2 separate regions of the Homo sapiens genome follow, and region 2 is linked to region 1. The links come from fine-mapping of genetic effects on gene expression. Tissue or cell type: sun-exposed skin. Region 1 holds a variant in brackets; the other region holds the start of a gene. All regions are shown on one strand. Distances are from middle to middle.

Region 1 (11,056 bases):
AACCTAAGACTTTCTCTAAGTCCCGAATCTTTTTTTTCTCACTGTGCTGGATTCCTTTTTGTAGCTTTTGATCCTTTAAAATTATAAGCTTTCTATTCCTGGAACTTCTCAGCTTTTTTTTTTTTTCCTGGACAGTCTAGATTATAAGCTTTTTGAAGACAGTGATTGTGGTATACATTTCATTCCCCCTGGCACCTAGCACATGGCCACAGCAGGACTTAGTTATTTAATTTAATTTAATACGTTGAATTAAGTTGAATCTATAATAAATAGTCTCACTGTTTCTACCAGAATTTTATCTCAAGGATACTAAAGTGGAATGTCACAGTTGAGAAAGAGAATATAGCATTATGTTTCTTTCAGGTACACATTCCCACTTCTGAATCCTGCTTTCCTACCCACTCCCCAACTCAGTCCCATTTCAACCTGGTCTTTCATTAGACATCTCACCACAAATCTCTGAGATTCTGTGAGCTGGCCTCTGAGAAATGACTCAATGTTAAGATAAATCGTTTTGAGACTATTATCCTTTATAATACAGGGCCATTTATATTACGATTTAACAATTTACATATAGTTGTCTCATTTGGTCCTTACCAGTAGAGATTTTTTTCTCCAGTTTTACAGATGGAGGCATAGAGAAATTAAACAAAATTCTCAGGGTCCCATAGCCGGAAGATGAGAGTTGAACTAGAGTTGGAACTAGAGATCTAATTATTCTCTGTCCAGTGACCAGATTCTACAGAGGCAGCATTGTGAAGTGGTTTAAGAATAAACTCTAGGTTCTGAGTACCTGGATTTGATTCCCAGCACTGCTCTTGACCTTGGGCAGTGTATTTGCCTGCTAGGCTTCTATAGCAAAATACCACACACCAGGTTTTGCTGAAATAACAGAAATTTATTGTTTCATAGTTCTGGGAGCCGAAAGTCCAAGATCTAGGGCCAGGAGAGTTGGTTTCTGGTGAGGCCTCTCTTCCTGGCTTGAAGAAGGCTGTCTTCTCACTGTGTCTTCATGGGGTCTTTTCTCTGTGCTCTTGCACACCTGGTGTCTCTTCATCTCATATGGACATTAGTCCTTTTGGATTAGTGTGTACCCTTATGGCCTCATTCAACATTAATTACCTTCTTAAAGGCTTTATCTCCAAATATGTTGGAGGTGAGGGGTTCAACATGAGAATTTTGAGGGGACACAACTCAATTCATAACAGGCAGGTTATTTAACCTCTTTTTGCCTCCATTTTTTTTCTGTTAACCGGGGCTGATGATAATACCTATCTCCTTGTGAGAACTAAGGATGTGATATGTGTAAAGTTCTGAAATAAAGACTGCTTGGCATGCAGGCATTCCATGGGCATTAGTCAACTTTTTACTACACACTATATCTCCAGAAGTTTCAGACGATGACCCGCTAATCCACTGCTCCATTTCCCCTCAGAAAACAGCTACAAAAATGAGCAAGCCCCAAATCCCATCCCTCCAAAAAAATGTATGCTGAGTTTGCTAGATTTCCTTGTTTTGTACACAAACATAAACATAGCCTTTGCTTTGTTAATAACCTCATTGTGTTGTCCCTCCCTCCTCTTTTTTTTTGGACAACATATACTGAGATAATAATTATTGTGAGAATTTCTCCAAAACTTAGAACTTTATGTATATTATAACTAAATCCTATATTCTAGCCAATGTCAACTTTTTTCCAACTAAAAGACATTGGGAATATGAGGTCGGGATGTTAAGAGCATCAATGAGTCTGGCCAGGAGAGGGAAAGAGAAAGAAAAAAAATGATAGCTGTAAAAATAAAAGAATTTTACCAAAGTTATGGGTCTATAAAGGCAGTGCAGCATTTTAGAATAGCCTGAGAAATTTATTATTACATTATCCATAATCCTCTAGGTATTTCACATGAGCTAGAGTTCAGCCTTTTAGCATTGCAATGTATCCATCTCCAGGAGAAAATTACTCACTTTCTAATGTCTCATTGGAACTTTGAAATGGGTTCTTTTTAAGGCAAGCCAGAACTACATTTTTTTGTGTAGTGAACTATACAAGAGAGGTCACAGCATTGGCCTGAACTTGAAGCAACCATTATATTGCTTTTAAATTTCAAGGGATGAGGTTCTTATTGTAAAAGGATAGAATTAGGTTAAGCAAGATGTGTTAGTCTGTTCTCACGCTGCTAATAAAGACATACCCAAAACTGGGTAATTTATAAAGGAAAGAGGTTTAATTGACTCACAGTTCAGCATGTCTGGGGAGGCCTCAGGAAACTTACAATCATGGTGGAAGGGGAAGCAAACACATCCTTCTTCACATGCTGGCAGCGAGGAGAAGTGCCAAGCAAAAGGGTGAAAGCCCCTTATAAAGCCATCAGAGCTCGTGATAACTTACTCACTATCATGAGAACAGCATGAGTGTAACTGCCCCCATGATTAAATTACCCCCCACTGGGTCCCTCCCATGACATGAGGGGATTATGGGAACTACAATTCAAGAGGAGATTTGGATGGGGACACCGCCAAACCATATCACGAGATAGCTTGCTTCATTCAAGTCTAAAAGTTTATCTGGCATTTCCAGGGTCAGAAAGTACAAAACCACAGGAAATAAAAAATGTCCAGGTTTCTCCCTCTGTTTTTCAGTCCAGGTCAAACACTGGTCCTTTGTATACATTCGACTTTTGAAATGCACTCTTGAATTTTTGTAAAACCTATTTTTTTAGAGTTCAAGGACTGATCCGGTTAATATTTTTGATAAAGAGGAGGTAAAGCCTTCTCAATGAGACCTGAGGTGTAAAAAGTCCAGATTTGCCAGGCAAGCACTTTGCATTATTTGCATTATAAACCAATTATTTAAAATGGTAGCTCCTCTGGTACATTTAAGTATTTTACAAATCATTACCTGCTTTGAAGAGAGCTGGGAAACAGACTAAAGTAGAAGAAGCCATTTACAGGCAAAGATGCTGCTTTTCCAAAAAGGAAAAATTGAGAGACTTTTAGAGTTTCCTCAAAGGGAGAATAAGTTCCTACTTACAGAAAGAACTCAGAAACAACATGCTATGAAAAATGAGGCACAGAGCCATACCATTTGTTGCCTCCCTGCTATGGGCCAAACCTTAGATCAGACACATTATGTATACTTCATTTAATCCTTCAAACATCCATGAAATTTGGTATTACTTCCATTTTCTAAATAAAGAAAATTAGCTTCAGACAGTTGTAAGACAGTTTAGAGCTGGGATTTGAGTTCAGGCCTCAAGCCTGTGCTCTTGCCATATTGGACAACCCCAAAATGAAAACTGAGAAGTCAATGATTTTGCCTGAAGTGACCACTTCACACTGGTGTACTTTCCTTCCATTTCTTTGCTTTTTTTCCTTAAAAAGCTGGGTGATTTGACAGAGTCCTCAACAGGGTAGTATACAAGAGAGAAGTCAGTGTCACTCCCCTACTCTAAGCAAAAGGGTCATCTAGCTGTCCTATCTTTTATTTTTTCTACTTTGTATCATACAGAATTATGTATGATACATAATTAGTAGAATTATTTTATTCTACTTTGTATCATACAGAATTATGAGTATTGGGATTGGGAGTAAATGGGGATGTTAGGAAATGAGCTTAAAGGCAAATATATCCAAGTACCTTTGATTTGATAATATTATGAGCTATAAGAAGAGATAGGTGTATAGATGAATGTCAGTTTTTAATACACACCTAGACTAAGGCATACAGTTAGTTGGTGCACTGGATTAATATGGCCTTTGAGAACCTGGACACTTTGCTTTTCCCTCTTTAGGCATTACAGTCTGGAGGTCTGTCTGCTGTCACACAGGGCCAGAGGGTGACAGCTTGATTTCAGGAATTAGATTCTATGCTGTCAGGAGAGCAGAGATTGTGAGAAACTGGATACTATTTGTCAGTTGGTACAGAATTCAAGGTGATTTTTACATGCAAGCCATAGACACCATGGGACAACTTGTTGAAATAAAGAGGAAGGGACCAAGATTTGGAATGGAAAGATCTGGACTCAGGTCTCAGTTTTATTCCTACTACCAGTTTCAGACTGGCTTGAGCAATTCTTAGCCTTGCTGGTGGTTAGTTTTCTCATCTGCAAAATGGAGATAATTATAATACCAACACTGGAGAATTGTAAGCCTAAAATAAGATAACATAACAAAATTTCTACAAACTGCTATGTAATCATATGAAAATTATGAAACTGCTAGGTAAACATATGAAAGTTGTTAATATTATTTTAATTCACTGGAGACGATTAATAGTTGCTGTCTTCCTAATTGTCCCTACTTGGTGGCAAGAGGTCTCTGGTCTTGATGGCTCTTTTATAATTTGTGTTCCTATTTACCTACAAATTATACATTTTCTTACCAAATTTTTCATTGAAACTATGTTTTTTAGAAGTTCCAGTTCAGGCTCGACATAAAAATGGCAGTCCAATCAAATTATATTTTTTAGCAAAATGTAGAATAAAGTGGAAGGTTAGAGGGGACTCTGGAGGAGGCAAGCAGGAGTGGGGAGGTGACTGTTAAGTGCCTGCTCTAATAGTTACCAAGTATGTCTTTCTTTCCTTGCCAACTAAATGGGAGAATAATTAACTGTAACAATTCCATAGTGTTTTTGACATTAAATGAAATAATACATATGTAGCATTATGTGCTTAGAACATAATAAGTGTGAAATAAATATTAACTGTTATTAGAAATGGAAAGTTCTTACTTAAAAACTGCTTTGATAAAGTCAAAAGCAAAGCTATATAATGCTGAACTGTGTCAAGGTTTGTTCAAGAGAGTTGGTTGCCTACTCTACCATACCTAGACCATGTCTATCATCAGATCGGTGACTTAGTCATTGAAAATTTAGCTCCCTTCCACCATTCTTAGGCTCATCATTCTTAACTCCATACAATTTGATTTGAATTGATTTAGTCACCTTTTTTTTTAAATCCACAGTGTAACAGCCAATTACATTGGCTTTTAAAATTGATTAATTAATTAATATTCCAATTTCTATTAAGGTTATTTTCCCCTCTTGTTGGCTTCCTTCCCTTCTTCATCTCTCTTTCTCTCTCTCTCTCTCTCTCTCACACACACACACACACACACACACATGCACACAGAACCTGTGCTAAGCCTGGCTGAAGTGCAGACATGCATCATACACAATTCCTACCCATAGTCCAAGAGAAGTGGTAAGGTGGATAGGCAAAGGGTAAAATGTGGTAGGAATCTTGAGTATCCTGATGATTTAGAGGAGAGATCACCCAGAGTAATTAGGGAGGTTCTCAGGACATAAACTCTGAGCTGGACCCTGAAGGATGGTAGAATCCAGCCATGTAAAGACTTAAGGAGAAGAGAGAAGAATGTGTACTACAGGCTAAGGAAGCAGCAGGAGCAAAGGCATACAGACGGTCTTCTCTTAGGAGGATGAATATAAGAGATTAGCTACAATGATTGTATCTTCCCCTCTCTGCCTTTTGCAGAGTCAGCTAGGGCACTCTTCATAGCAAAAATGG[G/A]TGTGGTGGTGGAGACAATTTCCAGCTCTGACCTACATTTCCCAAGCATCAAATTTTTCCCACGTTTGACTTTTTCTGTTATACTTCTTGAATCCTGAGGTTTGTCAGTCATCTGAGTGGGTTTTATGTTTAGTATTTCCCTATTCAGACAATAACCACTGTCAAATAGGTCTCTAAGGGACCATTGTGGTATCTGTTTCTCAATCCTGTGCTTCTCCCTCTAATTTTACTCTGTGTGAAGTAATCAGTGAACTGCAAATGGAAGCAATTTTAATTAGGGTCATGCAATAAGGTGCCTTCTTCAACCCCACCTGTGCTAACATCTTGGCAATTACCTTGGGCAGGTTCAGTCCATGGATTCAGTTTTTTTCTTCCATTCTTCAGACTCTGACTGAGCAGGTCTCAGTGCTCCACATGAATGGGAGATAAGGAACAATAAAACGTGATCCCTGCATTCCAGGTAGTCTAGAAGGACTAGAAAAAGTGATTAAGAGCACAAGAGAGGGACACTTAACATTTTTTTGGAGTTAACAAAGTGATAGTTCCCCCCCCTGCCCCGCCCCGGTGGAAGGGTGTTAATGAGGCTGTTCTGTAGGAGGTGGAATTTGAGTTAAGCCTTGAAAGATGGGGATGGTCATCAGGTCATGGGCTGAAAGGTGGTTGAAAGGTGATGCAGTGAACTAGTTCTTACCTGCGAATGAGCCTCCTGATTCTCAAGCTTTGTTATGTGTCAGTGCCTCATCTTCATATCCAGATTCCTCAGTCAGTGATGACAGGTCTTTTTCCCTCAAGGTTCTAGATCCATCATCTTTCAGAGACAAACCGTTCTGTCTAGAATATTCACTAACGCCAAACACTTACAGAATTATATTAAAATGATGTTTCTCAGGTTGAATTGTAGCCTGCTGACCTCTCTTAACTTCTTGGGGGTTTTGATGTCTATCTCCTCAGGATGAATTCCAAATTTACTCTTGGAAAAAGGTAATATGGATCTACCTGTCAGCATTAAACAGCGCATTTGGTCTCACTCCTGACCACCCTCTCATGACAGATGAGGAGTATATCATAAATAGAGCCATAAGAAAGCCAGACCTAAAGGTAAGTAAACTTATGGCTACTGCTGATGTCAGAGAGATTTAATCTTTTTCCCCTCAAGTATATAGTTAAATGTAGCTCCTCTACTGTGCCAATCCTCATTTGATAGTGTATATTTAAAATGTGAACTTTGGAGCCAGACAGTCCAAATCTCAGCTTGCTCCTTCTAAATAGCGCAACCATTGATCTTAACTCTGCTGAGCCTGTTTTCTCATCTACAAAATGATGATAATAATGTCTATTTCTAATATTAATTGATAAAATTCAATAAATTTAGAAATACAAAGATTAAAGTAGTTCCAGGTATATAGCAGATGCTCAATACATACTCGCTCTATTTTCTTTTCCTTTTGTTAGAGGTAGGATCTCACTATGTTGCCCAGGCTGGAGTGCAGTGGCTATTCACAGGTGCATGATTATAATACACTACAGCCTCAAACTCCTGGGCTCAAGTGATCCTCCTGCCTCAGCCTCCCTAGTAGCTGGGATTGCAGGCATGTACCGCCCAGCCCAGCTCTTACATATTAGCTCTAATAGTATCGTTCCCCATATTACAATCTATGTAACAGGGTTAATCTTATAGTAAAAGTAATCACCCAGGAATATCCCAGGAGGTTTGCTTATGCCTACAAAAATGACCTTATTTGAATTCTTGTCATTCAAATGTATTTGGGTTGCTCCCTCTTCACCCTATTAAATTAGTTCTGCTTGGATTATGACTAGTTAACATTCATATTAAAAACATTTTATAAGACAGAATGTTTTGTCTTACATTTATGTATGTGTGGTCAGCTGTTTAAATTAGTTTTATGAGCTCAAGTTCAGTTATTTAAAGTAATAAAGTAAATTATGAGCAATTTTCCTATTGTCAATTGTTATCACCCAGTTGTCTTTTTTTTTTTTTTTTTAAATGGAGTTTCACTCTTGTTGCCCAGGGTGGAGTGCAATGGCGCTGTCTTGGCTCACTGCAACCTCCACCTCCCGGGTTCAAGCAATTCTCCTGCCTCAGCCTCCAAAGTAGCTGGGAATACAGGCACCTGCTACCACACCCAGCTAATTTTTGTGTTTTCAGTAGAGACGGAATTTCACCATGTTGGCCAGGCTGGTCTTGAACTCCTGACCTCAGGTGATCCACCAACCTCAGCCTCCCAAAGTGCTGGGATTATAGGGGTGTGCCACTGCACCCCACCCACTCAGCTGTCTTAGCTGCCCAAATAAACAAAAACAAAGGAGGTCAAGTACCTCCAAATAATAGTTTCCCTAATCTGTTAGATGTCCATTCACCTGGAGAAATAAGCTTCCCAGATAGCCTATGTTCTCATAGTTTTATTGCTCTGAAATTCTAGCATCTTTAGTAGCATCAAATAAATAAGTGGACAGATAAATGAAGAAATGGCCAAGTCAACACACAGAATTGTAGGAGGGGCAGAGGTCTTGAAATGGAAAGTTGTGATAGGTGTACTATCTTCATTTACCAGCTACGGCATAGGCAGTTTGGTTAGTTACTGCCTCTCTGGTCTTGAGTTTCTTATTTATAAAATAAAAGTAATACCCCTTCTTTGCCTTTCTCAGGGCTGTTATGAACACACAATGAGACGATGGATATTAAGGTCATTTGTGAACTTCAATGAGCTATGCTAGTAACAAAACTTTCCTTAAAGTCAGAGGAGCTGTCATGGGCTCAGCCTTGATGACAATAACAGCATTACCAAGAGGGTAACCATTTAGGGGCATTTAAAGGAGGGGTCCCCAATCCCCAGGCCACCGATTGGTGCCCTGTCCATGGCCTGTTAGGAACCAGGCCACACAGCAGGAGGTGAGCTGCTGGCAAGCCGGCGAGCATTACCTCCTGAGTTCTGCCTCCTGTCAGGTCAGCAGCAGCATGAGATTCTCATAGGAGTGAAATCCTTAATATTGTGAACTGCGCATGTGAGGGATCTAGGTTACGGTGCTCCTTATGAGAATCTAATGATTGCCTGATGATCCGAAACCATCACCGCATCCCCAAGATTCGTGAAAAAATTCTCTTCCACAAAACCGGTCCTTGGTGCCAAAAAAGGTTGGAGATCGCTGGTTTAAAGGAAGTCTGAAGACTACAGCAAAGAACTATGTCAGGTTTGGAAACAGGCTAAGAGGAGATGCTAAGGACCATCTTGCAGGATTACAGGCAAAGCTAACACCCAGTGCTTAACTTGTTAAACAGGATGCTCTTATAACATGTTCTAACAAGAAATTACAAGCAGAAAGCCCGGGGAGAGGAAATCTTCCTTATTCCTGAGCAGAAAGATGAAATTCACCCCGCAGCAGATACTTGGTTTCCTAATTGCTGTTTCCTGGTCTGAATTTCCAGGAAATAGGCAAATAAACCTCATCTCTTGCAAATATTGTACTTAACATCCTCTTACCAGCTTCCAGAGGCTCTGAGAGTGATGGGGGAAGCAGATAAACTCCTGGCAGAGATGTTTTCTCCTGCGGGAATCTCAAATATGCTCAAAAGGTCTAGGATGGAGCCATTCTTCTCACTCTGTGAGAAATGGCTTAAGAAATTGTCAGAAGATAATGGAATTTTCTATTTTCTGGCCTGAGGTAAAACTTATCAGTAGCCTCTTTATTTCTCATTATTGCTGCGTTCATCTACAGATGTTTCATGTCTATTATGTTTTATACATTTTTCAACCTCAGTGTGTGGTTTCTGCCTCTTGATAAGAGGTTCTCGAACTGATCAGGGGCCTCACATTGGAACCACAATTTGTCCTTTAAAATATTTCTAACACAGATTTTTGCATTTATATAATTAATAAGTAGATAGCCATCACTTTATACAGCTTGAATCCTGAAGTCAATGGATTTTCAGATTTTCCTTTGGGACTAGCTTGAATATGATATCCTTTGAGAGATTGAACTCTGGAGCCAGATGGGCTGGAGTTCAAATTCCTGGGAAGTTACTTAAGCAAAATGAACTTCAGGCGCAAAGTGAAGAGGAAAATAATATCTGCCCTACCACAGGATGATGGAAAAGACTAAACATAACGTGTGAAAAGTCCTAACATGCCCAAAAAATAGTAGCTGTGATTACAATCCTGCTCTATTTGCAAAATTGCAAAGAATACTGAAGAGAAAAGTAAATTGTGAGGCAAGATGCTTGAGATTTCAACATGTGTCATGATGGCTAACACACCCTAGAGCCTGTCATTTACAAATATTTCCTTTGCAGATTGTGAAATCTGCAAATTAGAGAGAGATTGTGTGTCATTCCTACTGGAAATTCACTCTAAATCGGCAATAAGATATACTTTTTAAATGCATTATGTTTCAATCAACCTTGCTGAAATAAATCCATTCTGTAAAATAAAAAAATACAGCATTTTACATGCTATTTGGTAACTTTGAATGTCTGTGTGTGTGTTTGCACACGTGCACATGTGTACCTGTACATACACCTATTGCATAGAGTTAGCATTCATTTTTGGTAACCTAGACCTTAGAGCTAAGGGATTTAAACTGCATTTCTAGTTGACACGGTTTTACAAAGCTTTCATTCATTTATTTAATAAAAAAATGTATTGAGCACTTATTTTGTGCCAGCTATATGGTCTTTCCAGTTTTAAAATGTATCTAATGGTTATAATGACTATAATATTCTTGCACATAGAATACCTAGAGAGAAGCTGAGGTAGAATATAGACATAATCTGTCCAATTGTCTAAATTTATTCATGGGGAAACTGAAGCACAGGAAAATTTAGTTGAAGTTCTCAAATAGGAATCTAGCAGAGTAGCTACAAAAGGAAGCTCTAGACACTGTTGGCTGCACATTAAAATTATGTGAGGAAAATTATAAATATTATGCCCAGAATGCACTGCAGACAAATTAAATCAGAATCCTTAAGGGTGGGGCCAGACAGCAGTCTTTTTCAAAGCTCCCCAGATGATTCCAATGAGCAGCCTGAGAGTATAATAACCATTGCTCTGTGACAATATGGCAGTCTCGCTGTTTCTTTTTGTGTTCAGTTAGGTCATCAGTTCACGGAAATTCACATTCACATATGAACTTGCTTAAAGAATCAGAAGCAAGAACACACAATTGTCATAAGCGTCAACCCTTCCCTTTTCTCCCACTGCCAACAGTCTCAGACCCTCACTTCCTTTTTTTTTTGTAATAACCTCCTCTTTGTTCTTTAGTATTTGCTGCCAGCCTAATCTTTTTCAGTATTTTAGTATCTTTTTCTTTTTCTTTTTTTTACTGGTTTAATCTGGCTACCAGGATTTTTAAAATTTTGTTTTTAATTGACAAATAATAATTGTACATATTTATGGGGTACAGTGTGATATTTTGATACATGTATACATTATGTATAAATCAAATTCGTATATTTGCATATCTGTCACCTCATAGGTTTATCACTTCTTTGTAGTGATAATATTCAAAATCCTTTC
Region 2 (11,056 bases), 52 kb before region 1:
CTGTCTTATGGCCTTTCTCTCTTTCCCCCTTGGCCAACTGCTCCCCTGAGCTGTAAGCAGAAATTGCTGTGAGCTTCAATTGCCTGGTAGATTAAATTTCCTTTGCAAGCACCTGCAGTGTCATCAGCTCCCCAAGCACAGATTTTCACCCCAGTGGGTGGGCCCAATGCTATGTCCTAAGCCCTCTGGATCATGCCTAAGTAATGGGATGTGCTGTACAATTCAGTGATATGGCCATGGCTTTACACAATTGGTGGGTTCTGGAAAAGTTCTATTGAAATCTATGCTTGGCAAATGAAGTCCTCGTAAATATTCTAGAGATACTGTTTCAAAGTATCCTATTCTAATCCCTTTACAAAAAGTGAGTAGCAGCCGGGCATGGTGGCTGACACCTGTCATCCCAGCACTTTGGGAGACAGAGGTGGGTGGATGGCTTTTGCTCAGGGTTCAAGACCAGCCTGGGCAACATGTTTTTTGTCTTTACAAAAAACAAGAACAAAAATTAGTTGGGCATGGTGGCTCTTGCCTGTAGTCCCAACTGCTTGAGAGGCTGAGGTGGCAGGATCCCTTGGGCCTATGAGATTGAGGGTGCAGTGAACCATGATTGCACCTCTGCACTCCAGTCTGGGTGACAGAGCGAGACCCTGTCTCAAAAAAAAAAAAGTGAGTAGCAATATGATGTTGTGTGAAGTATATCATATATAAGACTTGAGAGTTTTAGCTTTCGCAGATTGTGATCTTGGACAAATCGTTACACAGTCATCCAGTAACTTTTTTCTCACCGAAGAAACAATGAAAGTAACTTAGTAATTTCTAAGGCCCAGTCTAATAGTCTCTGATTGTTAATAATAGCACCATAACTTGTATTGTTTTGTATATTCAAATTTTTAGGTTAAAAGTTCTCAAAATTAAGTACACTGACATGAAGCTTCTGCCTGGGGACCATCTCTTTTGGATTTTGTTTTTATAGGTTGTCCTTAATGACCTGGAATTGTTATAACAGCTGTCAACTGAGGTAAGCTTCACAGAAGGGGAGCTGCCTTACCTCCAGAGAGCAGCTTTTAATTTCCTATTTTTGGAAATAACAGAAAGCAAAGAGGACTCTTCTGAAAGGGAAACAACAGGCCACCCCAAGGCACTGGGAGAACAGACCTGGTGCTGAACGGGGATATTTGAGAGCAAGTCCTCTGAGAAGCAGAGACAGCATCAGCCTGCTCTTTTCTTCTGTAATTAATGGGGAGTCCCTGGATCTTTGTATTAGACCCTTTAATCTAAGGGTTGCTAAATGTTTTACAAACATTAATTAATTCAATTAGACTTTGCACCACCACCTTGAGGCAGGTAATTCCTCTTTGGGATATGGCATCTTTGCTTGCTACCACAGACTATTTTAGAGCAGATTAGGATAATTAATACTAAAGGTAAAGCCTTGAGTTTAGATAAAGTTCTATAACTAAAGGTCTCAAGTACTTTACAAATAGCAGATTTGTGTAATGAGGGCTGAGGAGGAAGACTGAGTCAGCTTATTGCCAGTGATGACAAGGCAGAGATATTGCACTTGTTTCAGGTTCCTCTCCATGGTAAAGACACATGACCTTGAACAGCTCTTTGTGACCTCTTTATGACTCAGTTCCTACAGCTTTCAAATGGGAGCAATGATACTACTCACCTCCCTACTTCACAGAGATGTTGCAAAAAACAATATTTGTAATATGCTGTGAGTTCTCAGATGAAAGATGGAAATTAACATATAATGAAACATTATTACCATTTATCATCACAAAACCTAAATGGGCCAGACAAGTGAAGCATCAGCATCCCCACGGCCCTGGCAGAGAAACCGGTCCTGCCATTATTTCCATTGGACATCTATTCTAGACAATCACAGAGGTTGAGAACTGCTCAGAACAACAGGCATGCTCCTAAGATAATCAAAAGCAAACCGAGATGCCAGATCAGCAGAGGTAGCTAAGTATTTGTCCTTTTTATTTTCCGTTCCCATTCTTATTTGGGAGAGAGTATTTGAGAAAAAATGAGTTCAGGGAGAGAATCAGAGAATGAACGAAGGTACTTTTCCTTTTGGACATTCCTCTCAATTCTGAGATATCAATATATGTGTATAATTTGTAGCCCCCAGAATGGGCTGTGTGCGAGCCCTCATCTGTGCTTTTGCTCTCTGTCTCCTTTGTTAATAATGCTTTCCTTTCCCACCTGTATTTATCTAGACAAGCATAAAACTCCTATCCTTGTGAGGGTTTCCTGGCCTAACTCCCTACTTGAAGTTCCTCTGTCACTCTTGTGTAATTAGCATATTATGTGGAATTTATATTTTGGTGTTGGTCTTGTTTCTTAATGGACTTAACTTTTCTGGGGCATAATTTATTAAATCTCTATTCTTCATCTATTACAGATCTGGGCATACTGAAGTTAATCAAACTAGTGCTAAGTGAATGAGTGAATGGAATCCTTCAGGAAAATGTCAAGATTAGAATTCAGACCACACCAAATCCTCATCTGCCATTCTTACTACGCCACATCACAACCCGTGAGGCACGTAGAGTATAGAATAGAAATATTGAACAGGCACAATTAAGGAAAGGGAGGGTGAATTCAAGAATAACTTTTCAAACAATGTTCCTAAGAGAAATAGAAGACTTAACTTAGAAGGTTCAAGAAAACTGTCTACATAAATACAGTATTGCATAGAAGGACTGAGTCGCTTTGGACCTGATTCCTATAATATGAGAGCACAGGCTGATCAGGAACAGTAGGGATATTTATGGAGTTCAGTTTGCCTTCCATGTTATTGTCACTCTGTGCACTAAGCTCAGACTCAGACCTGGCATTCAGGACCTCCATGCATGGCGTTGGTCCATATTTCCCTGCCACATGTCACTCCCCTCTTCTTCCTTCATGCAGCCCATGCTGCAGTGAGGCTGATGGGCTTGCTCTGAACATGACCATGTGTTTCTTCCTCTGATGATTCCCTTGCTTCAAATGCTCTTTCCTGCGGCCTTACTCTTTGTCCGAGCCTCAGCATCTCCACCTGTTGAAGCATTTTTGGCTCTTTCCAAGGCCTTTCTCAAAATGCTTCCTTCACAAAGAGGCTTTTCTGGTCATATAAATGCAAACCTCTTTGCAGAGCACTTTGGATGTGCCAAATAAATGTGTAGAAGAGGTATTAGTCCAGTAACTAGGATCACGGATTGGGAGAGCTGCATTGCCTAGGTCCGAATACTCATTCTGTCACTTACTAATGGTTTGAATGTAGGCAAATTACTTAATGTCTGCACCTGTGTTTCCTTGTCTGTCAAATAAGAATGACCAGAATAGTATCAACCACAGAGGCTTTTGTCAGGATTGTGTGCAACAGTGAGTGTAAACTGTTTAGAATTGTGCCTCATATGTGGAAGTGTTCTGTAAATGTTCTCTTTGCTTTCCCACACAACCTAGCCCTGTTTCTGGTTATGGTTATGTTTGTAGACCAAAATCACTAAATGAGGGTGAGTGCTGTCCATAAGCAGTGTTGCCATCGATAAAATCTAGATGTTTTACCAATAGAACTCCCAAGGAACCTGAGGAAACTCTCTCACTACTGGAGTCCTCAGCTCTATTGAACCAGGTTTGTGGAAAATAATTTTCCATGGACATCTGATTTTTATAAAAGCTTTTAATGTTCTTAAGGACTTACATATTTTCCTGTTCAAGTTTAGCTTAAATATTGTAGCAGCATGACCTGATTTATTTGATGGGGTAAGTTTGTGTACAGTTTCTCCTCTAGCTGTTAATCAGTTACACACTCATCTCAATCCCACAACGGTGCAAGAGTTGCCAAGTGCATTCAGGAACCCAGCCAAAAGGAAACTGCAAATATTGCCAGTGATAAACAGGAGAATGAATTACTTCTTTCTCACCTGCCCAGGAGCACTGATATAGTTTCACCACGTCACATACTAACACTCCTCAACCTCCATCAGTTGAGATGAAATTTGGAATATGCTTGTTTTATATTTTTTTCTGTACTAAATATATAATTACTGCCTAGTAAGGCTGTTAAATGTTCAGTTAGGTTTTTTTGAGGTATAATTTTTTATTGAGGTATGATTTTTAAATTTGTTATATCTCTTCATTGAGATATAATTCACATTTCATAAAATTCACCCTTTTAAAGTATAGAGTTCAGTGAGGTTTAGTATGTTCACAAATTTTTGAAGCCATCAGTAGTTCTAGAACATTTTTATTACCCCCCCCATAAACCCTTTACTCCTTATATTTTGACCTTGTGATAAAATGTTAATTTTATTTTCATTTATTTGGTTAAATTGTGCTAGCAAATTTTTGAAACCAAGAGAACTACATATATATATACACACACACACACACATACACACACACGTACATATATATTTTGTAATTACTATTACAATGGGTTTACTTAGCTTACTTTTTATGTTTATCCTATACTTCACTATTTGCTCAAGGTTTTACACATACAACATATACACACACACACATGCACACATTGATCTTGGTCACATTAGGGTTATTTGGGTCAGGTTGGAGATATCATTGCCAATGTAGCTTGAGGGACAGACAGTGGACATGGTGAAGGTAAAAATAACTATCTTTTGTGGAACACCTATTATTTCCCAGGCACTCTTTCTTAAAAGTCTGTTTTAGGACGTAGGTTCTATTATCATCATCTTTATGTTACATGTGAGGAAATAGAGGAGAATGGAGTTTGTATAACTTGTTATATCCCAAGGTAGCACAACGACCACCTAGTACAGTCCAAATTTGAACTCAGGCCTTCCAAATTTAGTGTATATGCCCTTAGCCACTATGTCCTAACACCTACTGTTCAAATGCACATTTAGTTTAATAATCCTAACAGCACTTGATCAGTGCTGTACAATGTACTTTCACAATGATCTCATTCCATTCTCTCAAAAGTCCTGTCGGGCGGTACCAGATGAGAAGAGCCGGTTCCTATAGTTAAATGATCACACAGCAAGGCCAGTGCAGACAAGCAGCTGGAATACAGGTATTTTGCCAGAGCTAGGGTAGGGGTGTGTTTCTCTACACCACATTGGGACTTCTGACAGTTTTCTTAGACTTCTGTTCCATCTCTTATAATAACAATCCACTTTCTATCATATTTGTTTGGATGTTTGAATCCTTACATCAACACGAGGGTAGCAAATATGACTTAACTTTTTTAGGTAGTCCCTGTGCTCAGGCACTGTTTATTGAATAAATGTGTAAACAAATTAAAAAAGAGTCTGGCCATATAGTCATTTGAATATTTTATTTCTAGACTTCCTTAAGTGTTGAACCATCAATATTTTAGTGAAAGGAGACTACATAGACTAGTTTGATGATACCTTTGTTCTTTTTCTACATGTGTTTCAAAAAAGTAAACTTAATTTCACATACACTTTAAATAGAATTTTTTTTGCATATACAAGGAAATGTGATTACAAATACCTTTTGAAGAGGATTAGTGATAATCTGTACCTTTTGTAAGCAAAATGAATGAGAGTACTATTAGAAACCTGTGGATTGAAGCTTTCATTCATCAAAGAAAATCTGCAGCTCTGTGCGCTTCCGCTCAACCCAATTCCTTAGGTCCTCTGAATAAAGCAGTGACCTGGGAGTTCTTGCACCCGCTCCTCACTCCTGAGAAGGGTCCTGCCAACTCTGTATTGTCCTGTTGGATTTGCAGTCAGAAGTCTGAGGCTGGCAGGCACTGGGCAGGCAATGAGTTCTTTCCCTGTAAGTTGGGCACAAAAAGATCGGCATGGGAGCAGCCTCCTTTGAGACAGCTGCTCTGAGAGAATGCAATAAGCAGGGAGCAGCCAGCAATTCCTCCTAGCAGAGGGCGACTCGTGGGAGGAGTTCAGTTTGCCAAGTATTGTCATTTGTTGAGAGAAGGTGTGTGCTCAAGGAGGAGTTTTAACCTGGAGGATCATTAACTCTTTTAGTCAGCTGAGGAGCTGCGGTGGCTCGGCGAGTTGGAGTTCATCCTGGAAGCGTCTGCACGACAAGGTCAGGGAGGAGGTGTGGAATAACTTTTTCATGGGACACTTTGAGAAGGGCCAGCACGCTCTGCTCAATGAAGGAGAAGAGAATGAGATGGTAAGATTCTAGCCACATTCCCTTCTTCCCATCCCACTTCTCAGCCTGCGAGACACACACACACACACACACACACACACACACACGCACGCATCACACACACACAGACTTTTCTAAAATTTCACTCTGGTATTACACGAGAAAAGGTCATGTTTGAGAAATCTCTCTATCCTGTAAATATAACCTCTGACAGCAGAAATTTGCTAGAATGAAAATATTGTATTCATCTTGTCAAGAATGTTTTCTTTTTAAAGAAAACAGAGAGGGAGAGAAGCACCATGCACTTTATGATTCTTGTTTGAGCCTCATTGGTATAGCCAGTTCTGTTCAAAACACCTAACAATTTTAGGAAATCCCTAATGTGAGGAGCAGTGTATTCCCTGATAGGAAGAAGCAGAAGTTCAGCAGTGAAGCAGAAGTGCAGCTGGGTCTTTGACCTTCTCTTCTCAAATGTCTTGTTCACCGAGTCTGTTGGACAGGGAAGACATGCAATATTAACAATTATCAGCCTACACACATTTCTGTTTTCTTCTAGAATTTTACTTTTGTGGCTTCCTCATTATAGAGATTGGTTACAGAAAACTTTCGGTAGTTCAGTATCTCTTTGATTTTAGATGTGCTTCTATCTTGAGAACTATAGGAAAATCAAAGATGACTTTCATGCTCAGGATGAATTTAAAACTGTATTTCTCAATTACAATATAATCAAGAGAGAGTTAGAAATATGTACTTCTGTTTAATAAGATCTTTCTGCTAATTGTGTAAGCATAGTCTTTTATGCCAGTAATGATGTAATTAAAATGTTAAAATGTGACGCTCTCATTCCATAATAGCATTTAATCTTCCTGGAATTAATATGTAAATAACAAACCTGAAAGATATTTACTTAAAATGTTTTCTTGGTTAATTGCTTTAGCCCTGACTATTACATTCTTTGTTCCTAAACTGGTCTTTCAAGTCTAATCTGCTTACCTGTTCCTATAGCAACAACATTTTTTGGACTTTCAAGAGTAGATCCCTTCTGCTATCAAAGCTGAAAAAATTATAAAGAAGTAAAATGTACATTAATTCAGGTGCCTTTCTTAACCATATCCTTTACTTCATTCAGATTTGACTGCCAAATGAATTGCCTTCAGCCCCTCCACAAATGTCACCAGAAATGGCTTGCTAGCCCACATTGGATATCATCTTTGTTTCTTTAAAGAGTTTTCTTTAGGAAGTGAATATCTCATTACTCTCGATATTAAGTTGAAAAGTTTATCTTCATCTTGAATACTCTTCACCAGAAGGCAGGGGCTCCTTCCTCTGAAACATTTTTTTTCTCTCTCATTTAGAAATACACTCACTCTTTTCCAGTAAACCCCTTTCTGCTCTCAGACAATTTGTCTTTCAAGTCTCAATAAGAATCATTTATTTTCCAGAAGACATTCATGGTTGTAGGGAAACTGTTACCTCTTCCCTAGCATACATATTCCACCAAAGCAATTTAGTTAACAGTTCATCTTCATAATGGCACCATCAGATGCATGGAGAACTCCACGTAGTTTTGTATGCAGCTGAAAGCCCAGTTAGGAGAGGCCCTTTAATATGGAAAGGGACACTGTGTTTTCTGGTAGGCAGCCATTTGGCCAGTAGTCTCAGCAGAGGTGCAGCAATTAGTATGCACTCCTGAGCTCTCCATCCTCTTCTGCCTACAGAAACCTGGCCACCTGCCTGTTGCTGTGTCTGACACTGTGTTCCTTTTTAACTCACTCCTCCATCCCTTGCCCAGAGCAGTAAACTTTAAAAATTATCAAGCTATATATATAGTCTACATATTTTGTAGTGATTTTTAGTATACACAGCATTTTCTTGGCCACTAGCTAATTTAGTTTTCCTCACAACCCTATGAGGTAGATGCTGTGATTCTAACTTTAAAGATGAGGAAATTGATGCACACAGGCTTTCCCTAAGGTTGCATCAACCAGTAAGTCCAGGAGCTGAGGCACCGCACAGGTTAGTTTAAGTTGACAGCTCTTTTGTCTCTGGACCTGAACATAGCCCACTGATACCTTTTCCAGTTCTTCCGGAGAACATTCCACTCTTAACAGAACACATTCCCTTCCTTCATAAAACAAAGCTAAGGAGAACATCAACATCCAGTCTTCTTAGATTCCCCAGCATCTGTTCTGTTATAGATAATTTGAGTTTCTTTTTTCTTCTAGATAATTCGAGTAGCTTAAATAAGTCTGTCTTCTCTGACTTCCAAGTCCAGAAATGTGTCACACCAAAGTGTTTAGTTTCATGCTTTATAATATACTTTACTTGAACCTTTGCAAACGTAATTTCTCTTGTGGTAGAAATTACTTCAAATTTCAAGAGAAAACAACATGCTAGGGTTTAGACCTCATGTCAAATAAAGAAGAATATTCTGAGGCCTAAAGATGCCTGGGATTATCTTCCATTTTGGAGTTAAAAAACCAAAAACAGGCTGGGCATGGTGGCTCGTGCCTGTAATCCCAGCACTTTGGGAGGCCGAGGCGGGCGGATCACCAAGTCAAGAGATTGAGACCATCCTGGCCAACATGGTGAAACCCCATCTCTACTAAAAACACAAAAATTAGCTAGGCAGGGTGGCGTGCACCTGTAGTCCCAGCTACTTGGGAGGCTGAGGCAGGAGTATGGCGTGAACCTGGGAGGCAGAGGTTGCAGTGAGCCAAGATCGCGCCATGGCACTCCAGCCTGGCAACAGAGCAAGACTCTGTCTCAAAAATAAGTAAATAGATAAAAATAAATAAATAAACAAGTAACAAACCAAAAGCAAACAGGAACTAAAGAGCAACCCTAGGTGACCTGAAAATAATATCTTTAACTGCGAAATGAGACAGGACCCAAAGGTAGAAAGAAGCTTTTGGAGGGAGAAGGAAGGAAAGGTGAGAAAGTGGCCTTCAGCGAAGGTTCACCTAAATGACTGCCTCAGAAAGGCTTCGAGGAGGAAACTCTGGGAGAGCACTGGGACGGGACGGGAGGCCTGGCTCTCACCGGCCTTGGGCCAGCCGCTTGCCTGCTCTAGCCTCAGTTTTTATACCTGTAAAATAGGACTGGTCCTTCTTACCCCCACCAGACTCACAGAGTTCTCATGAAGATCAGTGGAGATAATCCATATAAACATGTTTTGAGAAGTAAACAGTTCTGGCGAGGTGTGAGCTGCTATCATCTAAATAAAGGTAGGAAAAGCCAAGGGCTTAGCAATTAACCAATTGAGTAAATACTATCCCACAAAAATGAGGTCATCTCTTGCCATTCAGTTATACCAAAAGGAATATGTACTTTTTTTTTTTCTTTTTGTTACACGGAGTCTTGCTCTGTTGCCAGGCTGGAGTGCAGTGGCGTGATCTCGGCTCACTGCAACCTCTGCCTCCTGGGTTCAAGTGTTTCTCCTGCTTCAGCCTCCCGAGTACCTGGGACTACAGCTGCATGCCACCATGCCTGGCTAATTTTTTGTATTTTTAGAAGAGATGGTGTTTCACCGTGTTGGCCAGGATGGTCTTAATCTCTTGACCTTGTGATCCACCTGCCTCAGCCTCCCAAAGTGCTGGGATTATGGGCATGAGCCACCGCACCTGGCCAGGAATATGTACTTTTATTCATAGGCCGTAGAGACCACTTATAAATGGAGAGGAGCTGGGTTATCTTCTACTTACCTTGTGCATACGTTGGGAAAACACCTACCTTTTTTAGCTTCCTTATTTGTAAAGTGAGAGTATGAGAATGTCTGGGAGCACAAATCTCTTTGAGTCCTGACGTTTTGTATTTCTATTTTGAAGGAATTTAGAACCATTTCCTTATACCATGGCTGAACGAAGGTATCATGGCTTAATTGATTCTAACATTGCTCTTTAGTTACACCTTAACACAATCAATCTTTTGGGGAAGTGTTTTGTTCCAGTGAGACTTTTAAAAAGTAACGTTCCCTGATATTTTTCTCTAGGCCTTAACAAATAAGACAAAAAATAAAAAAACCTTTGAATTCTTTTCTGATTATAAAGGTAACATATGTTTATTGTAAAAATATTGAAATGGCAAATAAGGATCTAAAGAATGAAGTAAATATGCTTCATGAGTTTACCACCAGACATGTCAATAAAAAATGCAGGCTGCGCGCCATGGCTCAAGCCTGTAATCCCGGCACTTTGGGAGGCTGAGGCGTGCAGATTGCTTGAGCCCAGGAGTTCCAGACCAGCCTGGGCAACATAGTGAAACCCTGTCTATAAAAATACAAAAAAATTATCTGGATGTGGTGGTATCCACCTGTAGTCCCAGCTACTTGAGAGGCTCAGGTGGGAAGCTCGCTTTGGTCCAGGAGGTTGAGGCTGCAGTGAGCTGAGATCATATCAGTGCACTCCAGCCTGGGGGATAGAGTGAGACTCCGTCTCAAAAAAAAAAAAAAAAAAACCTAAAATTCACCACTTTCTAACTATTTTGCTCTATCTTCATACTTATCTGTGCTTTTGAGATTATTTGCACCTAATTTATCTGTATCATGGAAATACTAGGTAGTGGTATTACACAGCATGGTGCAATTGTATTTCTTCCGAACTCCTAATTCAGTGACATCACATTGGTAGCTTGAAATAAATAATGTTGGTGCTATTTATGCCACAGAAATCTGTGGATACTACAACGGGACTTCCACCCTGCCCCGCCTGAAGGCCATTTGTTAAATACTTACCAGCACATCACTGAACATATTGTTGCCTCATAATTTCCCTTTTCCCCGCTACATGTTGAAAAACAACATGAATATTGTTTTTGGATATCATCCGTTTGTTTGCATCATGGCAAAACAAGATTATTCCATTGATTTAAAAATTCTATTCTTAAAAAATATACATATACTTAGAAATATGTATCTTTTTCATGTTAGTTTTTTTTGGAG

Evidence for each region. PIP is the estimated chance that this variant, and not a neighbour inherited with it, causes the effect.
Region 2: ATP13A4 starts here. The variant in region 1 is fine-mapped to the expression of ATP13A4 in sun-exposed skin (GTEx, PIP above 0.99). The same link has a PIP of 0.9 or more in unexposed skin.

The regions. Positions count from the first base shown.
Region 1 is chr3:193,498,060-193,509,115 of GRCh38, reverse strand. ATP13A4 (ATPase 13A4) reads left to right here. Exons shown (of 30, transcript NM_032279.4): 3 at 6,477-6,623. Among named protein-coding and RNA genes, the nearest start is that of ATP13A4-AS1, 50 kb to the left of the region's middle. The variant G/A (reference allele first, on the strand shown) is at 5,526.
Region 2 is chr3:193,549,822-193,560,877 of GRCh38, reverse strand. It overlaps ATP13A4 (ATPase 13A4), which reads left to right and starts at 5,983. Exons shown (of 30, transcript NM_032279.4): 1 at 5,983-6,138. The coding sequence starts at 6,079. It overlaps ATP13A4-AS1 (ATP13A4 antisense RNA 1), which reads right to left and starts at 7,665. Exons shown (of 2, transcript NR_121666.1): 1 at 7,591-7,665; 2 at 5,294-6,108.